Linked DNA regions of Homo sapiens. The protein of the gene in region 2 interacts with the protein of the main gene of each other region in a biochemical or structural test. Each region holds a gene or a part of one and is shown on either strand. Other genes may lie near its edges.

Evidence for each region.
Region 1: the proteins of TRIM32 (region 2) and UBE2N form a complex in vitro, tested with the Homo sapiens proteins (one study listed by BioGRID).
Region 3: the proteins of TRIM32 (region 2) and IQCB1 form a complex in vitro, tested with the Homo sapiens proteins (one study listed by BioGRID).
Region 4: of the proteins of TRIM32 (region 2) and PIAS4, one has a biochemical effect on the other in vitro, tested with the Homo sapiens proteins (one study listed by BioGRID).

Annotation. Positions count from the first base shown.
Region 1 is NC_000012.12:93,409,982-93,414,447, reverse strand, and holds part of UBE2N (ubiquitin-conjugating enzyme E2 N), read left to right. Parts: intron 1-3,148; coding exon 3,149-3,395; intron 3,396-3,573; coding exon 3,574-3,714; intron 3,715-4,368; coding exon 4,369-4,409; 3' UTR 4,410-4,466. UniProt on the Homo sapiens protein: The UBE2V1-UBE2N and UBE2V2-UBE2N heterodimers catalyze the synthesis of non-canonical 'Lys-63'-linked polyubiquitin chains. This type of polyubiquitination does not lead to protein degradation by the proteasome.
Region 2 is NC_000009.12:116,699,552-116,703,731, reverse strand, and holds the end of TRIM32 (E3 ubiquitin-protein ligase TRIM32), read right to left. Parts: coding exon 4,028-4,180; 3' UTR 2,433-4,027; downstream 1-2,432. UniProt on the Homo sapiens protein: E3 ubiquitin ligase that plays a role in various biological processes including neural stem cell differentiation, innate immunity, inflammatory resonse and autophagy.
Region 3 is NC_000003.12:121,827,595-121,832,060, reverse strand, and holds part of IQCB1 (IQ calmodulin-binding motif-containing protein 1), read left to right. Parts: intron 1-3,088; 5' UTR 3,089-3,100; coding exon 3,101-3,200; intron 3,201-3,428; coding exon 3,429-3,591; intron 3,592-4,466. UniProt on the Homo sapiens protein: Involved in ciliogenesis. The function in an early step in cilia formation depends on its association with CEP290/NPHP6.
Region 4 is NC_000019.10:4,010,736-4,015,201, reverse strand, and holds part of PIAS4 (E3 SUMO-protein ligase PIAS4), read right to left. Parts: intron 2,280-4,466; coding exon 1,853-2,279; intron 1-1,852.

The DNA.
Region 1 (4,466 bases), on a different chromosome or scaffold from region 2:
AGACGGAGCTTCGCTCTTTTGCCTAGGCTGGAGAGCAATGGCATGATCGGGGCTCACCGCAACCTCCACCTCCGGGGTTCAAGCGATTCTCCTGCCTCAGCCTCCCAAGTAGCTGGGATTACAGGCATGCGCCACCATGCCTAGCTAATTTTATATTTTTAGTAGAGGTGGGATTTCTCCATGTTGATCAGGCTGGTCTCGAACTCCTGACCTGAGCCGATCCACCCGCCTCGGCCTCCCAAAATGCTGGGATTACAGGTGTGAGCCACCATGCCCAGACTTTTTTTGAGATGGAGTCTCGCCCTGTCACCCAGGCTGGAGTGCAATGGCACGATCTCAGCTCACTGCAACCTCCGCCTCCTGGCTTCAAATGATTCTCCTGCCTCAGCCTCCCGAGTAGCTGGGATTACAGGCACGTGCCACCATGCCCGGCTGATTTTGTATTTTTAGTAGAGATGGGATTTCTCCATGTTGATCAGGCTGGTCTCGAACTCCTGACCTGAGGTGATCCACCCGCCTCGGCCTCCCAAAGTGCTGGGATTACAGGCGTGAGCCACCGCACCCGGCTCAGGACTATGACTTTTAAAGGGTCTGTGGATAATAGACCTGCGAGGGAGGTAGTGAGGTCAGAAGCAGGAAGAACAGGTTAGGAGGCTGTTGTAGTATGCCAGGTCAGAGCTGATGGTTGCTTGGATCAGAGGTGTAGCAGTGGAATGGTGAGAAACAGTCCAATCATGAGTAGAATTTGAAGTATAAAAAAAACCAATTTGCCAATCAGGCTAGATGTGTGTGGCATATGAAGGAAAAGGTGGATCATTTGGAAAGATGGGTTTGCCAGTAACTGATGTGGGGAAGACTTTATGGGAGGAGCAAAGGTTGGGGATAGGGAGGTCATGTTAAGTTTGGGATGCTTATTAGACATTCAAGAGTGTATATCAAGCAGGTAGTTATAGAGGCAAGAGGCACGATGAGGGGAGAGGTCTGGGCTAGATATGAATTAGGGGAGGCTTCAGCTTATAGAGTGTGTTTAGTATTTAAATTCATTGCATTACATGAGATCACTGTGGAAATGTATAAACAGAGAGGAAGCCCTAGAATAGAGCCCCAGTGCATTTCAGTGTTGCGATGTTGGGAGATAGAAGAAACCAACAAGGAAACTAAAGGAAGCTGCTGCCAGACAAGGAGGAAGAGAGCCATGAGAATGTTTATAGGAAGTTAGATAAAGCTTTGCAAAGAGGAAGGAGACCAGCTGGATAAGATGTCGCATTTAGGTAAGATAAAGATTAAGCACTGGACATTTGATTTAACCTTGTGGAAATCATTGGTGACCTTAACAAACAAGTTAGCGATAACTACAGCTTGATTGGAGGGTATGTTCAAGACAGAAGAGGAGGAGAGAAATTGGAGACAAGCAAAGTAGAGGTTCCTCTTCAAAGACTTTCCTCCCCATCTAATTAGGAATAAATAGTAACTTCTCTTAGAAGCAAAATTTATTCGAAGACCTGTGCAAACATTCTTAAATATTTGCTAGCCATAATAAAGAAATCAATATACTTTATGTTCTTAGCTCCCACAATTTAGCCTAAATATTTGCCCTGGCATGCTTATACTGGTCCAAGCAAGCATTAGGTCATAGCCTGTTCCTCTTCCTTATTTAAAAGTGTTTTTACCTTTCTCAGCATTCCACAAGTTACTTCCTCCTTCCTTTGTTCCCCTCTACCTTTACCTCTTTTAAAAAGTTCTAAGTTGCTAGCCAGTCAGGACAAATACAGAATGTGAGATCCCGTTCCAGCCAGTGGAAACCGGACACAGCAGTAGGGTGGACGCGTCAGGTTATAAATGACCCTGTCTCCTTTGTTCAGTATACTCTTGTGGCAAAACTCCTGGCGAGTGTACCCTTTCTGCAGGAAGTAAAAATGGCTTTACTAAATAAATTAAATTTATGTTCAAGTGCTATTTCTTTATGGTACCGAAGAACAAACATTTCAGAGATCAGTAAGATCTAGTGCTCAAGACCGATTGGCCCTAGCCAAGAGTACGTGACATTTCATCTATACAGGAGAAAAACCAGAGTGTATGGGTGCAGATGCAGGGAAATGTCCAAATGCTACAGTGGGAACTGATGGAAGTATCTAACTTGTCATGAAATAGGAAGCAGGACATCAGCCACAAGTGAGGATGGGGATGGAGATGCTGGAGGTTTGAAGAGAGAAGAGAAATAATAATAATACAATTATTTAGGGGAGAGGGAGAATGATGAAAAAGAGAACTAATGGTATGATTGTTGGGAGTATTAAGGGTTCCTCTGAAGTTAATTGTCAATTTTAGAGTAATCAGCATTGTTAAATATATTTCTTTAGTCCTGTTCAGGTACCTGGGCCTCTTCTTATCTCCTTTCTTTAGTCCGTTACATTTTTCAGAGGGGAGGTTTTCAGTGGGTTTAAAAACTAATTTTTGGCCGAGTGTGTTGGCCCATACCTGTAATCTCAGCACTTTGGGAAGCCAAGGCGAGCAAATCACTTGAGGCCAGGAGTTCAAGACCAGCCTGGCCAACAGGGTGATACCGTCTCTACTAAAAATACAAAAATTAGCTAGGTGTGGTGGCGCACACCTGTAATCCCAGCTACTCAGGAGGCCGAGTTGGGAGGATCACCTGGGCCCAGGGAGGTCGAGGCTGCAGTGAGCCAAGATCTTGCCACTGCACTCCAGCGTGAGTGACAAAGTGAGATCTTGTCTCAAAAACAAACAAACAAGCCAAAAAAAACCACCAAAAAAGCTAATTTTACTTTTTAAATAGCTTGGTTTTGGTTGAGTTTAGAGCAAGTTGCCTTACTTATGTAATCCTAATGTTACTTTATTTTACTTGAGTAAAAAATCAGTTTTATTAAGCTAATTTTATTAACATATTTGTAGACATTTGTAGCCAAAATGTATGATAACATCATTAGTATTCGCTTGCAGTTTCATTCAGCTGGTTGTAATTATTTAAATGGTATTTTTTTGAATTTTGCATTTTATAAGCTAAATCTGTTGGGAGATTGGAGCTGTTCTATTATGCGTAGTTCTAAGAGATGAACTTTCTAATTTTACTTTTGGTGTCTAGCAAAATGACATTTGTTTCACAAATGTGTTTGTTTTTCTGTCATAGGAAACCCAGCGTTTGCTGGCAGAACCAGTTCCTGGCATCAAAGCCGAACCAGATGAGAGCAACGCCCGTTATTTTCATGTGGTCATTGCTGGCCCTCAGGATTCCCCCTTTGAGGGAGGGACTTTTAAACTTGAACTATTCCTTCCAGAAGAATACCCAATGGCAGCCCCTAAAGTACGTTTCATGACCAAAATTTATCATCCTAATGTAGACAAGTTGGGAAGAATATGTTTAGATATTTTGAAAGGTAAGTGTTATCTTTATCAGCATATGCTATTATTAAGCTTTCTCCTTTTTCTCTTAAGCATTCCATGTTTAGAATGTAAACATTATACAAAGATCAGAGAGGTCTGTGGGAGGGAAGTGAAGCAGTTCTGGGCCTGTTTTTTTCATGCTTTATCATACTGGGCCTGTTGCCTTCATAGATAAGTGGTCCCCAGCACTGCAGATCCGCACAGTTCTGCTATCGATCCAGGCCTTGTTAAGTGCTCCCAATCCAGATGATCCATTAGCAAATGATGTAGCGGAGCAGTGGAAGACCAACGAAGCCCAAGCCATAGAAACAGGTATCTAATATTCATTCTCCTTCACACCACTTCCACTTTTACAAATTTGTATTACCACTTAAACTTTTCTAAAGCTCTTGGCAAGGAAAAGAAATAGAAAAAAGTATAATAAGTGAGATCCTGCTTATAGTATGTAAATACGTCTTAACAAAATGGCTTGCTATGGGACCCCCCAAATATAAAGACAACCTGTAATTGAAAGATCTTGGAGTCTCTTGTAACTACACCTGGTTTAACAAATACTGAGTGCATACCATTTATCTAGTTATATGTAAAGAATACTGGAAAACTTGAACTGTTTTTGTAACCCATTTGATTAAAGTATTCAGCTGTTTATGGCTACGGAATTTGGAGTCAAGAAGCTTCTGCTACAGATTTTAAGAAAATTAGTGGGGAGAATTGTGTATCTAGAAATGGACAACTTGATTCATCCTCTTGAATTTTCTAGAACTTCTTAATTTTATTGTAGTGTTTTGGTAATTGGACATTTACAAAATCTTTCAGCCCTGATCCAATTTATAGAAAAAGGCGTGAATTTAACAGATTACAGCATGACATTTCCATAATTAATAGTGGTTGTTTGCCATTTATAGTTTGGAAAGTAACATATTGAACTAAGTAAAATAATAATCGTATGTTTGTTTCTGTCTACAGCTAGAGCATGGACTAGGCTATATGCCATGAATAATATTTAAATTGATACGATCATCAAGTGTGCATCACTTCTCCTGTTCTGCCAAGACTTCCTCCTC
Region 2 (4,180 bases):
TTATTATTATACTTTAAGTTTTAGGGTACATGTGCACATTGTGCAGGTTAGTTACATACGTATACATGTGCCATGCTGGTGCGCTGCACCCACTAACTCGTCATCTAGCATTAGGTATATCTCCCAATGCTACCCCTCCCCACTCCCCCCACCCCACCACAGTCCCCAGAGTGTGATATTCCCCTTCCTGTGACCATGTGATCTCATTGTTCAATTCCCACCTATGAGTGAGAATATGCGGTGTTTGGTTTTTTGTTCTTGCGATAGTTTACTGAGAATGATGGTTTCCAATTTCATCCATGTCCCTACAACATGGGAGAAAATTTTCGCAACCTACTCATCTGACAAAGGGCTAATATCCAGAATCTGCAATGAACTCAAACAAATTTACAAGAAAAAAACAAACAACCCCATCAAAAAGTGGGCGAAGGACATGAACAGACACTTCTCAAAAGAAGACATTTATGCAGCCAAAAAATACATGAAAAAATGCTCATCATCACTGGCCATCAGAGAAATGCGAATCAAAACCACTATGAGATACCATCTCACACCAGTTAGAATGGCAATCATTAAAAAGTCAGGAAACAACAGGTGCTGGAGAGGATGTGGAGAAATAGGAACACTTTTACACTGTTGGTGGGACTGTAAACTAGTTCAACCATTGTGGAAGTCAGTGTGGCGATTCCTCAGGGATCTAGAACTAGAAATACCATTTGACCCAACACTGCACTTTTAAGAGGCCATTAATTAGCACTAGATTAAAAGTACAACTACTTAAGCATTACTTGCCTTACCCAGAGGAACACTGTAAAGCTCACGCCACGTTTATTCTACTGATTGGAATAAGAGTGCCCCTCTACAGACTCAAGTCCGGAGTGTACACTGGCCCACAGTAGGTAGTTAATAAATATTGAATGAATCATTGCTCCAAAATCTTAAATTCTATGTAACCACTCAGAATGATAAAGGGAGGAGGGGCTTAACCAACCTCTAAGTCAATTGTTTGCCACTAGCTTTTAAACACCTTATAAAAGGGCTTGTCTGAGTATCCTTTTTTATCTAATCTAAGGGGGCTACACTAGGAAGACTCGGGTTACTGGAGTCCCATTAAGTCAGGTAAATACCTGAACCAATTAAATAACTGATAACATATTCTATACTAGGCACCATGTTACATGCTGGTAGCTAGATTAGTTAGCCCTCAATAAAGCTCAAATATATGGACAGATAATTGCAACACAGTGATTTATATAATAGGAATGTGAAATAGACAGTAGAAAGGAAGAGATGAACTTGATATATTTGGAGACTTGTGAGGGGAAAGAAATGCCTGAGAAAGGTTTTAATCACCAAATAGAAACCTGTTAAGCAAGAAGAAAGGAACTGTTTAGCATGGTTGGACCACTTCCCACCATCAGGTGCTCTTTTGAGCAACTAGATAAAAGAGTAACAGCCATCATTTATGGAATATTCCAGGAATGAAACCAGGTTATTTTCACATGTTATCTCATACCCTTCTAGGAGGCAGGGATCATTTTTGTTATTTTCCAGAAGAGGAAGAGTTAAATGACTTGCCCAAGGCCACATGACTAATAAGACAGAACTATAAGGTAAGCAATGCTGTAGTTCAGTGGTTTTCAGAAAAGTATTCTGTAGATTCACAAGTTTTGCAATGGTAGCACAGGAGGTAAGGTAAAGGGAGGAAACAGCATATTCTTCAGCGGCACAAACCTGCTTCAACCAGAGCAGCTGCTCTTTGATCTATTTTACATGATAGACTTCCATATAAGACTTTATTTGGACAAGGGTACTGCTGCTTTAAAAAACAAAGCAAAAAAAAAAAAAAAACCCAAAAAACTGCTGTAATTGAACAAATTAGTTTCTTGGGGCCCTAGTCTGCAATTTAGTCAACACAGCAGATAATTAAACATCGACTGTACTAAGCACAGCCTAAAATATTCACATCAAAGGGGAAAAAGGAAAAAGACTCAGATCACACTTCCATTTTGAGCCAACAGATAACTGCTTTACTTGAGGGAAAAGGCATGACTGGTTTAGATGGGTAGAGATCTAAATGCTGAATGTCACTCAGTGATGGCACCTCTTTCAAAAGCACAGACAGCTGGAGGATTCCTGGCCTCATTTACCTTCAGCCTGCCCACAATATTATATTTCTCTCTCCACTGCAAACTGTGTGCCAAAGGCCTGAGCCACTGTTATTGCCTCAGCAAGTCCCCCACTGACAGCAAAGACAGATCTCCTGCTGCTGGGTGCCCCCACAGATAAAGTGGCTCTAATAACTAGTGGAGTCATTTGTGATGCACTTTCAATTGGATCAATTTCCTCTCAATTACCCAATCTTTGAAAATCGGATGCAATTTCATAATCAGAATATGGGGCTTTCTCCAGATGAAAAGAACAAGACAAACTAGTTCAACATCATTTTAATGACCTCTTTACCTATCCTTTGGCAGCTATTATGATACAATCCAAAGAAACACTACTACCATAAAAACAATTTTGAGCAGCTCAGTTTAGCAAATTTTGTTTACATCAAAGTAAGGCAGTTGCTCTTTGGCTTGCCATCAGCCCTGCACCTAGAGTAAGATATATTACTTAGTAAACACCAAACCCTCAGGAACCTCATCACAGGTCCTCTCACCCACTTCTGATCTTAAAAACAAGACTAACTTCCTTTTTGTGAACTGTAATTATAAACATAAAACATACAGCAGAAGCTCAGAATAGGGTATTGGTGACTCTAAACCTTGGGGGATGATTCTGTACACATGTATTTGGGAGAAAGATTTGGATTATTATCTTTACATAATAGTGCTTTTGGCTGAATTTTGACCTGGGTAGATATCTACACTCTGAAAGAACACAGTGAGATAAGGAAGCAAAATGGCATAGCGCAGGTTATCCCTCTTATCATCTCCAAAATTCCGTATTTAATTAAAAGACATGAACACCAGAGATGAAGAAACAGTTCTCAATTATTTAATGCTTGATAGAGAAATGGAAAGAAATCCTGAAACCAAATAGTATGTACTGACTTGAGGAAAACACAGAATAACAAACCAATAGTTTTGCTGTTTGTTTTAGTAATGAACATGAAAATGTGTCCACCTCTCCACTTTGTTGGCCCTGGCCTATGTTGTACAATTCCTTAGACACAGGCCAGAAGAGAGAGGTAGTATGAAAAATGATGAGCCCTAGAGACTATCCAAATTTGCTGACTATATCAGCATTTGTTTGCTTATTCCCAGCTTCCTATGCTTTGGCATAATTCCAACCCATATATGCTTCTTTAAAAGGCAAGCAATTTCCAGGCTGAAGTCATCAATACCAACCAACTAGGGTCAATCCATTCTGTCACATCTGCAATTCTCAATCCAAGATGGCACAGATCCTCCAGGCGAGAGGTACTGCTTCCTAAAGGGCTTGTGTATCCCCTTTGGTAGCACTAAATGAATGACTTTCATACTGGTAAAGACGATCAGACTGAGACATAATGTTACGGGAATATGATGTCTTAAATGTCACTGAAAGGTGGAGCAGATCCCACTGAAGCATGCACAGTGAATCCAATCAGAGTTCAAGAGAAAGTGTCACAGATGAAGCACATTATAGTAGGAAGGAAACAATGGATCAAGGGCATCAAAGCCAAATGGGAAAAAATCAAGGATTTAATACAAGGGCAAATTTCAAACATGGCACAAAGGGCTAAAGTGGCTCTCTCTACTAAAGCCTTGGAAGTGCCTAATTGCTAATCAAACTTCAGCTAACACCATCGTGTGTCCTATTTGGGCAGTGCATCTTTTAAAGCTCTAAATTTAGGTGGGAAGCGGGGAGGGGGACATAACAAATAAAAACATTAAAAGATGGAGCTTCTGAAGTTCTAGAACTACCCAGCTGGAATCAGGACATAGGCTGAGTCTATTCTGCATGTGCCACTAACAACCAAGAACTAAGGGAAGGGAAGTTGGCTTGGGAGCAGAAGAAACTGATAATTTCTCATCCCCTATGGGGTGGAATATCTTCTCAGATGGTAGCTGTAGATCTTGATGCAATGATCCCAACAGTCCAAGACCAGCAGCTGCCCCTTAGGAGTTAGGGCTATGCCCACCGGACAGGTAAGTCCCTCTCGAATAAGGACACTATAGCCCCCACCCTT
Region 3 (4,466 bases), on a different chromosome or scaffold from region 2:
TAACAGATTGGCAAAAATGTAAAGGATCATGTGTATATTCATTGCAGTGTTGCTTGTAATAGCATACAGCTTGAGTGACCTCCAGTAGAGGTGATGTTTAAATATATTTTGCTGCATTCTTAAAAGGAAATGTAGCATAATGCAGCCATTTGGAGAGAATGAGATAACTATATGCACTCTCTTTGAAAGTTTTGTGACTACTATGTGCCGGGAGTTGCACTGGGCTTTCTTTAAGGTATTTTCAGCAAACCTGTCTTTTAATGATTTATATTGTACCTAATAAGAGATATATGAATGGAAAAACAGTTTTTGCTCTCACATCATGACAATCAACACAAAAGACTTCTGTGACCAAATGTGTGGAGTTTTCTTCCACCAACAAGCAAGCAATCAATTCTGCAGCGGACACCAGCTGGGTATCATCTAATTCAATTCTGACACTGTCTACTTGGAGATAGGGTCAGATCCCTTAGGTTTAGGGCTTAGTCCTGCAAGAGGGACCCCCATTTCTGATGCCAATCCAAGCCCTAAGTTGTTTTACCTGTGCTTCTGACTGACCAGCTACACATGAGGAATCCTATTAATACACACCTTGGGGTGTATTAATTTGCTAGAGGAGCTAACAAAACTGAGGGAAACATGTTTTCCAGTTTATTATAAAGATATTACAGAGACCCTGGGCAACATGGAGAAACCCTGTCTCTACTAAAAATACAAAAAATTAGCCGAGCGTCATGGCTTGCAAGTGTAGTCCCAGCTACTTGGGAGGCTGAGGTGGGAGAATCACCTGAACCTGAGAAGTCTAGGCTGCAGTGAGCCATAATTGTACCATTGTCCTCCAGCCTGGGCAACAGGAGTGAGATCCTGTCTCCAAAAAAAAATACTAGGATACAAATGAAGAGATGCATACTGTGAAGTATGGGAAGGGGCACAGAGCTTCCATGTCCTCCCTGCCTGTGATATCCAGGAAATTCCTCCAGGAACTTCCACATGTTCAGCTATCCAGTAGCTCTTTGTACCCCATCCTCTTGAGCCTTTTATGGAGATTTCAATGGATAGGCATGACTGAAGCATGGACAATCATTTTGGAAATGTGATTGGACAAAAAAGATATGATCTGATACTAACAGACTGAGTGGGGAAACCCAGCAAGGCCTGTCTGCTCAGATTCTTCTTGGCTTCTCTGTTCAGCATTCCTTCCAGGATATAGGGCAAGACCCATTCTGAAACAGGGGTCTTATGACCTACAGCTAGACAAGATAGGTCAGAGAAAGGCAGGGATGATTAGAGTTCTGCTTTGGAGAGAAGGAGCAGGTGAAAGGAGGAGAGGAGGAAGTCAGAAATAGATTCTGTTTTCTGAGGCCTAAAGCACCCTAACATAACAAGACTGTAACAAAGGCTATGGGAGTTATGAGCCAGAAACTGTGGACAAAAACATATATATGTATATGTATATATGTATGTATGGAAATGATCACACGCTCTATCTACTTCATAGCCCTGTTGTGAGGATTACACAAGACAGTGTATAGTATATTAACATAGTGCTTAGCTTATATTAAACAGTTGATACATGTTAGCTTTACTATAAATAAGGAAATACGCTTTTATTATATAAGGATATCTTTGAGCTTCAAATGCTTTAAAACTTTTTTTTTTTAGAGACAGGGTCTTGCTTTGTTGACCAGGCTAGTCTTGAACACCAATTCTCAAGCGATTCTTCAGCCTTAAACTTTTTTTACATAGAGAAAGTTTTAGCAACAAATTAGGATGTGGACCTTGTTTTTTAATGTTAGGAGAATTGATTTTATTCAATATACTATTTACTTATTTATTAATTATTATTATTATTATTTTGAGACAGAGTCTAGCTCTGTCACTCAGGCTGGAGTGCAGTGATGTGATCTCAGGTCACTCAACCTCCACCTCCTAGGTTCAAGCTATTCTGCCTCAGCCTCCTGAGTAACTGGGATTACAGGCACGCGCCACCATGCCCAGCTGATTTTTTGTATTCTTAGTAGAAATGGGGTTTCACCATGTTGGCCAGGCTGGTCTTGAACTCCTGACCGCAAGTGATTCACCCACCTTGGCCTCCCAAAGTGCTGGGATTATAGGTGTGAGCCACTGCCCCTGGCCTTATTCACTATACTATTTAGAAGCAATCTTTGATTATCTTATATTTATGTAACATTTCTGAGCATTAGTGTGTTGAAGGTCAGTGCTTCACTAGGAGGGCTCACAGGACTCAGAATATAGTGTACTTACAGCTATGATTTATTACAGTGAAGGGAAATAAAGCAAAATCAGCAAAGGGAAAAAGCATATTGGGGGAAATCAGGTACAAACTTCTGAGTTCTCTCCCAGTGGAGTTACGTAGGATATGCTTAATTCCTCCAGCAACCAGCTATGACAACATGTTTGAAGTGTTGTCTACCAAGGAAGCTCAACTAGACACTCAGTGATCAGAATTTTTATTGGAGGATGGCCACATAGGCACCCTCTGTATAGGTACTCTCGACTGGCATGTACCAGAATTCTAAGACTCCTGGAAGGAAGGCGGGTATTCAGCATGAACCACATTGTTTTTCATAAACAGTTTTAGGCACAGGGAGCCACTCTTACCAGAGAATGGCAGAAACCCTCCTGAAATCTAAGTTCTAGATGCCAGTCAAAGGCCAACCTTGTAAGCACACCTTTGAAAGTATAGTAGTCTTAGGCCTGTCATGTTAGCTCTTTTTTGCAGTTCTTCTTGTGTGATTAAAGGAAGTTAATTCCTATCCTAGAATTATTGTGCAGATTAGAGAGAGAATGTGAAGCTCCTATCACAGTTCCTGACTCTTAGTGAGTGCACAATAAACAATACCTGCTATAGCTGTTACATGTGAGGTATAGGAATCTTGAGCTCTTTTACACTGGTTAGAAAAACCAGTTTTCTATAAGGAAGAAATGAAAAAATCTACATTCTGCCTCTCAAACAAGGCAAGAAAAGCTGTTTTTATTTATATTGAAATTATATTTCAAACATTATTTAGGTAGTGAACATTTCCTGGCTTTTTGACCTTTATTCTCTGATTCTGTTAAAATATAGGTAATAAGAGAAATGAAGCCAACAGGTACAGACCCAAGGATCTTATCTATAGCTGCTGAAGTTGCAAAAAGCCCTGAGCAGAATGTCCCTGTTATACTGTTGAAGTTAAAAGGTAAGAAAATCTTTTTGTGATTAGATAGCATTTTAAGTGAAAAATGGTTCCATCGTTGGTACAATTTTAACATTTCTTTTAAATTTGTTCAGAGAGGTCTTAACACTATAATAGAACAGTAATTTTTCCTTCTAATATATTTTTAGTGATTATTCAACATATAAAAATACAAATAGCTCCTGGATGTATTAAGCAAAAATAAATATATCTTATTTCCTTTTGCCTTAGAAATAATAAACATCACACCTTTAGGAAGCTCAGAGTTGAAGAAAATCAAACAAGATATATATTGTTATGATCTCATTCAATATTGCCTCTTGGTCCTCAGTCAAGATTATTCTCGAATCCAGGGTGGTTGGACTACAATTTCCCAGCTTACACAGATATTAAGGTAAAATAAAGCAGTAAGTCAGCTGTTCTTGAGGGATGTAGTAGTTGATTCTGATTTTCAACATTTGCTTTTTATTTATCTGCCTAACAAGCATTGGCAACCTCCTGTTGTAGGTTTTGGTTGTACTTTTCCTTCATATTATATGTTATTATTCATAATTTTACTTCAGATTATTTGACTGTCTAAAATTTTCCTCCACAAGCTTAATGAAGATGGTGATCATTTTTTTTCTCACCACTGAATTCCAAGTGCCTAATATACTTTTTATTGATTAAGGAATTTTTAAAGAAGTGAAGAAATTAAGGCACTGGCTCTGTACCTGAGAAACTTAAAATAGAGATTGGGTGACAGTCATGTAAGTATATGATACAAAGCAGAATGAAATCAGTGCTAAAATGAAAGTATGCAAGCAAGTACTATAGGAGAACTGATAAAGAAACATTTTATTTCACTATATCAATGTAGCTATCAACTGTGTATTTCATTAAGCAACCCAAATACTGTCAATAAAATTTAGAAGTAGAATTTACTGATCTACTGCCATGCTAGAAATTAATAGAAGAGAAATAAACATTTTTTAAAGGAGGTAGTAAAATAAACCAGATGTTCTTAGTGCCTAAGCTACTTCCTGATTAATAAGTGAAAGTGTGTATTTACTAACTGGATCCTAGCCTTCTTTTTTTGTTTTTCCTAAATAAGCCATTTGAATTTAATAAGCTATTCCCACTGAAAGGGTTTGTCTTGGATGCTAGATTTCTAAGCTGCTTAATCCTACTGTGTTACTTGGTAAAGGCCAAATTTAAAGCACACAGTTACAAAGAACAGTTGAAAAATATATGTGATATTCTTTTTCATACTTTAATTTTCAAGATTGA
Region 4 (4,466 bases), on a different chromosome or scaffold from region 2:
CAGCCAGCTCTGCCCAAGAACCTGGCAGGGGGAACAGCTTCCCTCATGAGAGAGCAAAGGCTGGGAAAGTCAGTCCGATGGAACTCAGGCCAAGACCCTGAGTCCCCCAGGACAGGTGCCACTGGGCCAACCTGCTCCCCAGGAGGCTGCTGCTAGACACCTCCTGCAAGAGAAAAAAGGTGGAGGCGGAGCCTCACTTGGAAGGCGGAGCCTCAGGCTGGAGGGAGGAGCCTCGGCTGCCGCAGGAACCACCGACAGCACCTTCCTCCCTCCTCCACTTCCTCCATCCTCACCTGGAAGCACAGCCCCTCCAGCCTAACCTCACTAAGTCCCAGGGCTGCAGATGGGAGGGGAAAAGCAGCCAGTTCCCCTTCCCCCTACCCCCATCAACGCTGCCTCCCTGGGCAGGGGAGCGGGGGCCAGCTGGCACCCAATGGACTGAAGCGTGCCAGAGAAGGGCCCTCAGGCCACAGCAGGGGCCAGGCAGGTTGCTGGGTCAGCAGGGTGGGAGGGGGCATGCACAGGGTTCTGAACCTCGTGGCCTTGGTCCTGTTCCCTGCTGCGTGCCCACGCCTGGTGCCCATCACGCACCCACCCAGCAGGCGCTCCGATGTTTACTGTGCGAAGGAAAGAGTGGGGGCAGGGGAGGGGAGGCAGGAAGAAGAGACGGAGAGACCTCCAGGCACACAGAGGACTTGGTGAAATCTGAGCGCCTCAAGGCACAGGTCCGCAAAGGCCCAGGACGTTCCGCTCCCTATCTGGGAGTCCCAGAGGCTGCACACTCTCTCTGCCCTGGGGGCTGGGGCTGCGGAGGCCTCCCTGGCCCTGAGCTCAGGGCTATGGCTGAGGCAGAGACTGGGCTCAATGCCCACCTGCAGCCTGAATGGCCACGGCTGCTGGGGAGGCACCAGGGGCCTGTCCACACTGCTGTGGGCTATGAGGTCCTGACACACAGTTCCTGCTCAGTCAGTGCTTGCAGACAAAGACACGAGAGAGAGAAGCGTGGAGCCCAGCACCTCTCCTCCGCCTGGGATCGCCCTGAACCCCCAGCACGCCCGGTGCACACAGCCTGGCAGTGACCTGAGCCCACTGACCAAGGACACTCCTGCAGGCTGCCAGCGAGGAACCAGAGCCCGGGGGAAGGATGCCACTGGCCAGCCCCCTTTCCAAGGGGAATAAGCAGGGAAACCAGGCTCCCAGGTGGCCCTGGTCACCCCTGGCCCTGGCAGTCACAGCCTGGTGTGGTCCCTGCATGCGCCACAGAGTCTGTGTGAGCAACGGACTCTGTGGGGGAGATGGCGAGGCGTGTCCGAGGTTGGGTTATAAAAAGGGCTCCAGCTCCCAGCTTGGAGGTGCACACTCGCTACCCTAGGGTGAGGGAGCCACCAGGCTGAGGACGCCCAGGCAATCCGTGCAGGAGTCCGCACCATGAGGACCTGGGGACTGTGGCCAAGAGCTGGCGAGGAGCTGAGGCCTGCCAGCCACCACACAAGGATGTGCCTGCTCCAGCCCTGGTCGAGCCTCCAGATGAGGTGGCTCCAGCCTGACTGAGCCTCATGAGAGCCCCCAAGCCCCAATGCCCCGCAACACAGCTCACAGGTTCCTGAGAGCTAACAGACGCCCCCTGCTTCCAGTGGCTCCATTTCGGGGTAACTTGTAACACAGCAAGGGGTGACCAATATCAAAGATGGTCCCTTTGCTTCCGAGGAAGGACACCCCTGGCCACTGTGGCTCCCCGCCCTGGCTGCGCCACAGAGAACATCACTCGAAGTCGGCTGTGTGGCTGGGCTGGGCTGGGCGACGGGGCCTAGGTGAAGCCTCCAGTCGCAGCCTCCCCAGGGTGACCACTCACCTAATTCGGTGGGCTTCAGCAGCTCATCCAGCATATTAAAGAACGGCAGCTTCACCAGGCGGACTTCTGGCTTGAGGGTCTTGGCGGGCAACCGTCCCAGTCCGTTTAAGTACTTTCCGTAGAGCACGGGGTAGTCAATATTGGGGCCTGCCAGCGGAGTCCTGGGCACAGCGCCGGCCCGGTCGTAGGTGGAGTGCATGGTCAGGGGGTCCAGGGGCCGGTGCGGCTGTGGGGCAGGCTCCGAGTTCTTCTTGGCGTAGCGGGTCTCGTACAGCTCCTTGATCTTCTTGAACAGCTCAGGGCTACAGTCAAACTGCACCAGCTGGAGGGCCCTGGTGACGAGCTCGTGCTTCAGTCCACTCTTACTCCGGCCCACGAAACCCAGGAGCATCTGAAGGTCGGAGACTCGAAAACTCATCACCATGTTCTGAGGAGGAGCAAGCACACACACACTCAGAGGACACAGCTGCGAGGCAGGGGACTCCATGGAGGCCAGGCCCCGATGTGGGGGCCGTGAAAGACACCCACTCGCCAGGAAGCGCCAGCCTTGGCTGGGGCTGGTGGAGTGCCCTGCCCCTACGGTGCCCCCTCCCAGCAAAGCCCTGCCCCCTCCCTCCTCCTCATCAAACTTTCCCCAGCATCGCCAACGCAGCAAAAGCGCCTCTGACTAGGCCCCCCCTTCTATTTTAGGTTCTCTTTCCCTGTCTTCAGCCTGAAAGCATCCCCAGGGCAGGAACTGACAATTGTGCTTTACTTGTAAACAGCCTCTGCCAGTGCCTTACCGGCAAACACCAAATGCCTCTCTGACCCTCAGTCTCTACGTCGGGAGGATAATGACATAAAGCACTGGCTGGGCGGGCGCTCAACCCATGTCAGCCACAGATATGTTTTCCCTTCGGTCTCGCCAACGGTAGCCACAGTTTACTTAGTACTAATCACCTGCCGGGAACCAAGCCGGTCATGTGATTATATATTTAACTCTGATCCTTAAAACACCCCTGCTAGGCTGGTGTGTGAGCTCTGTCACAAATGAGGAACTGTCGGCTCAGAGGTGGCAGCGCCAAGATTCGAACCCAGGCCTGGCTCTGAAGCCAGGGGCGGTTCTTGCTGCCACACTACCCTCTGGATGTCAACACAGGGCTGGGCCTGTGGGGGCCTCCGAAACATCTGCTGATCATCCCAGGCAGGGTTTCTCCTCCTTGGCCCTGTGGACACTGGGGCCATCCTGGGCTCTGTGTGGTGCTAAATACCCACAGCTCACGACAACCAAACACACCTCCACACCCCACACACCTCCACACCCCACACACCTCCACACCCCACACACCTCCACACCCCACACACCTCCACACCCCACACACCTCCACACCCCACACACCTCCACACCCCACACACCTCCACACCCCACACACCTCCACACCCCACACACCTCCACACCCCACACACCTCCACACCCCCCACACCTCCACACCCCACAGCTCCACACCAAACACACCTCCACACCCCACACACCTCCACACCCCACACACCTCCACACCCCACACACCTCCACACCCCACACACCTCCACACCCCACACACCTCCACACCCCACACACCTCCACACCCCACACACCTCCACACCCCACACACCTCCACACCCCACACACCTCCACACCCCACACACCTCCACACCCCCCACACCTCCACACCAAACACACCTCCACACCAAACACACCTCCACACGTTGCCCTGAGTCCCTGGGGGACCGGTCCAAGGGGAAGATAGCAGCCACAGGGGCTGTTGCAGGACCTGGGTCAAAGCGACAAATGAGGCTTGGCAGGACCTGGCCCTCATCGCCTGGCCGGGCCTCTCCAGCGAAATAAAAACCAAACAGCAGAGCCCAGCTGACCCTGGTGTTTGAGGTGGGGTAGACTGGCAGTGGCCTGACCTCCATGAGGGGTAGGACCCTGAAGGGGAAGGAAGGCTCCTCAACAGGCTGCAGAAGCCAGGTGTCCTCGAGGGATGGGCTGGCAGGGTTTCAGGGCCACCCACCCTTAGCCCTGAAGCTGGCCTGGGATGAATGAGATGTGGTGGGAAACAGTAGCTTCCAGGAGGAATGGGGAGAAAGCTCAAGCGTCAAGGGTGTTAAGGAAAGCTGGCGGGTACCCGAAGAAACCAATAAACCATTCAAACTCCACTCGAAAGACCCTGAGGGTCGAAGCCAGAGGCAGTCCCAGTGGGGTATGTAAACTGCAGCCTCCGTGCCAGGAGGCGCTGAGGTTTCCGGCTCCTGGCTGCCCCAGGGTGAGACCAGGAGCCTAGCCGCACATTTCAGCACCAAAGCTGCAGCAGCCGGGGCCCACTGTCGGGTCCTCATCTGTCAGCTCTGATTTCTTCCAGCTGTATCGGGCCAGGGTCCTGTTGGAGACGGAGAGGCTGTCCAGGCTCAAAATGACAGGGACACACGTGCAGGCGGCCCAGCCCTGCCCAAAGAGCCTCGGGAGAAGCCTCTTCCCATATCAGGGCTGCGGGGCCCCGTGACTGTAAAGAATCGGGATGCCAGCGTCTTGCTCCCTACCAGGCACCAGCAAGGCCTGTGTCGCTAATTTCACAATGAGGACACCCATCGTGTA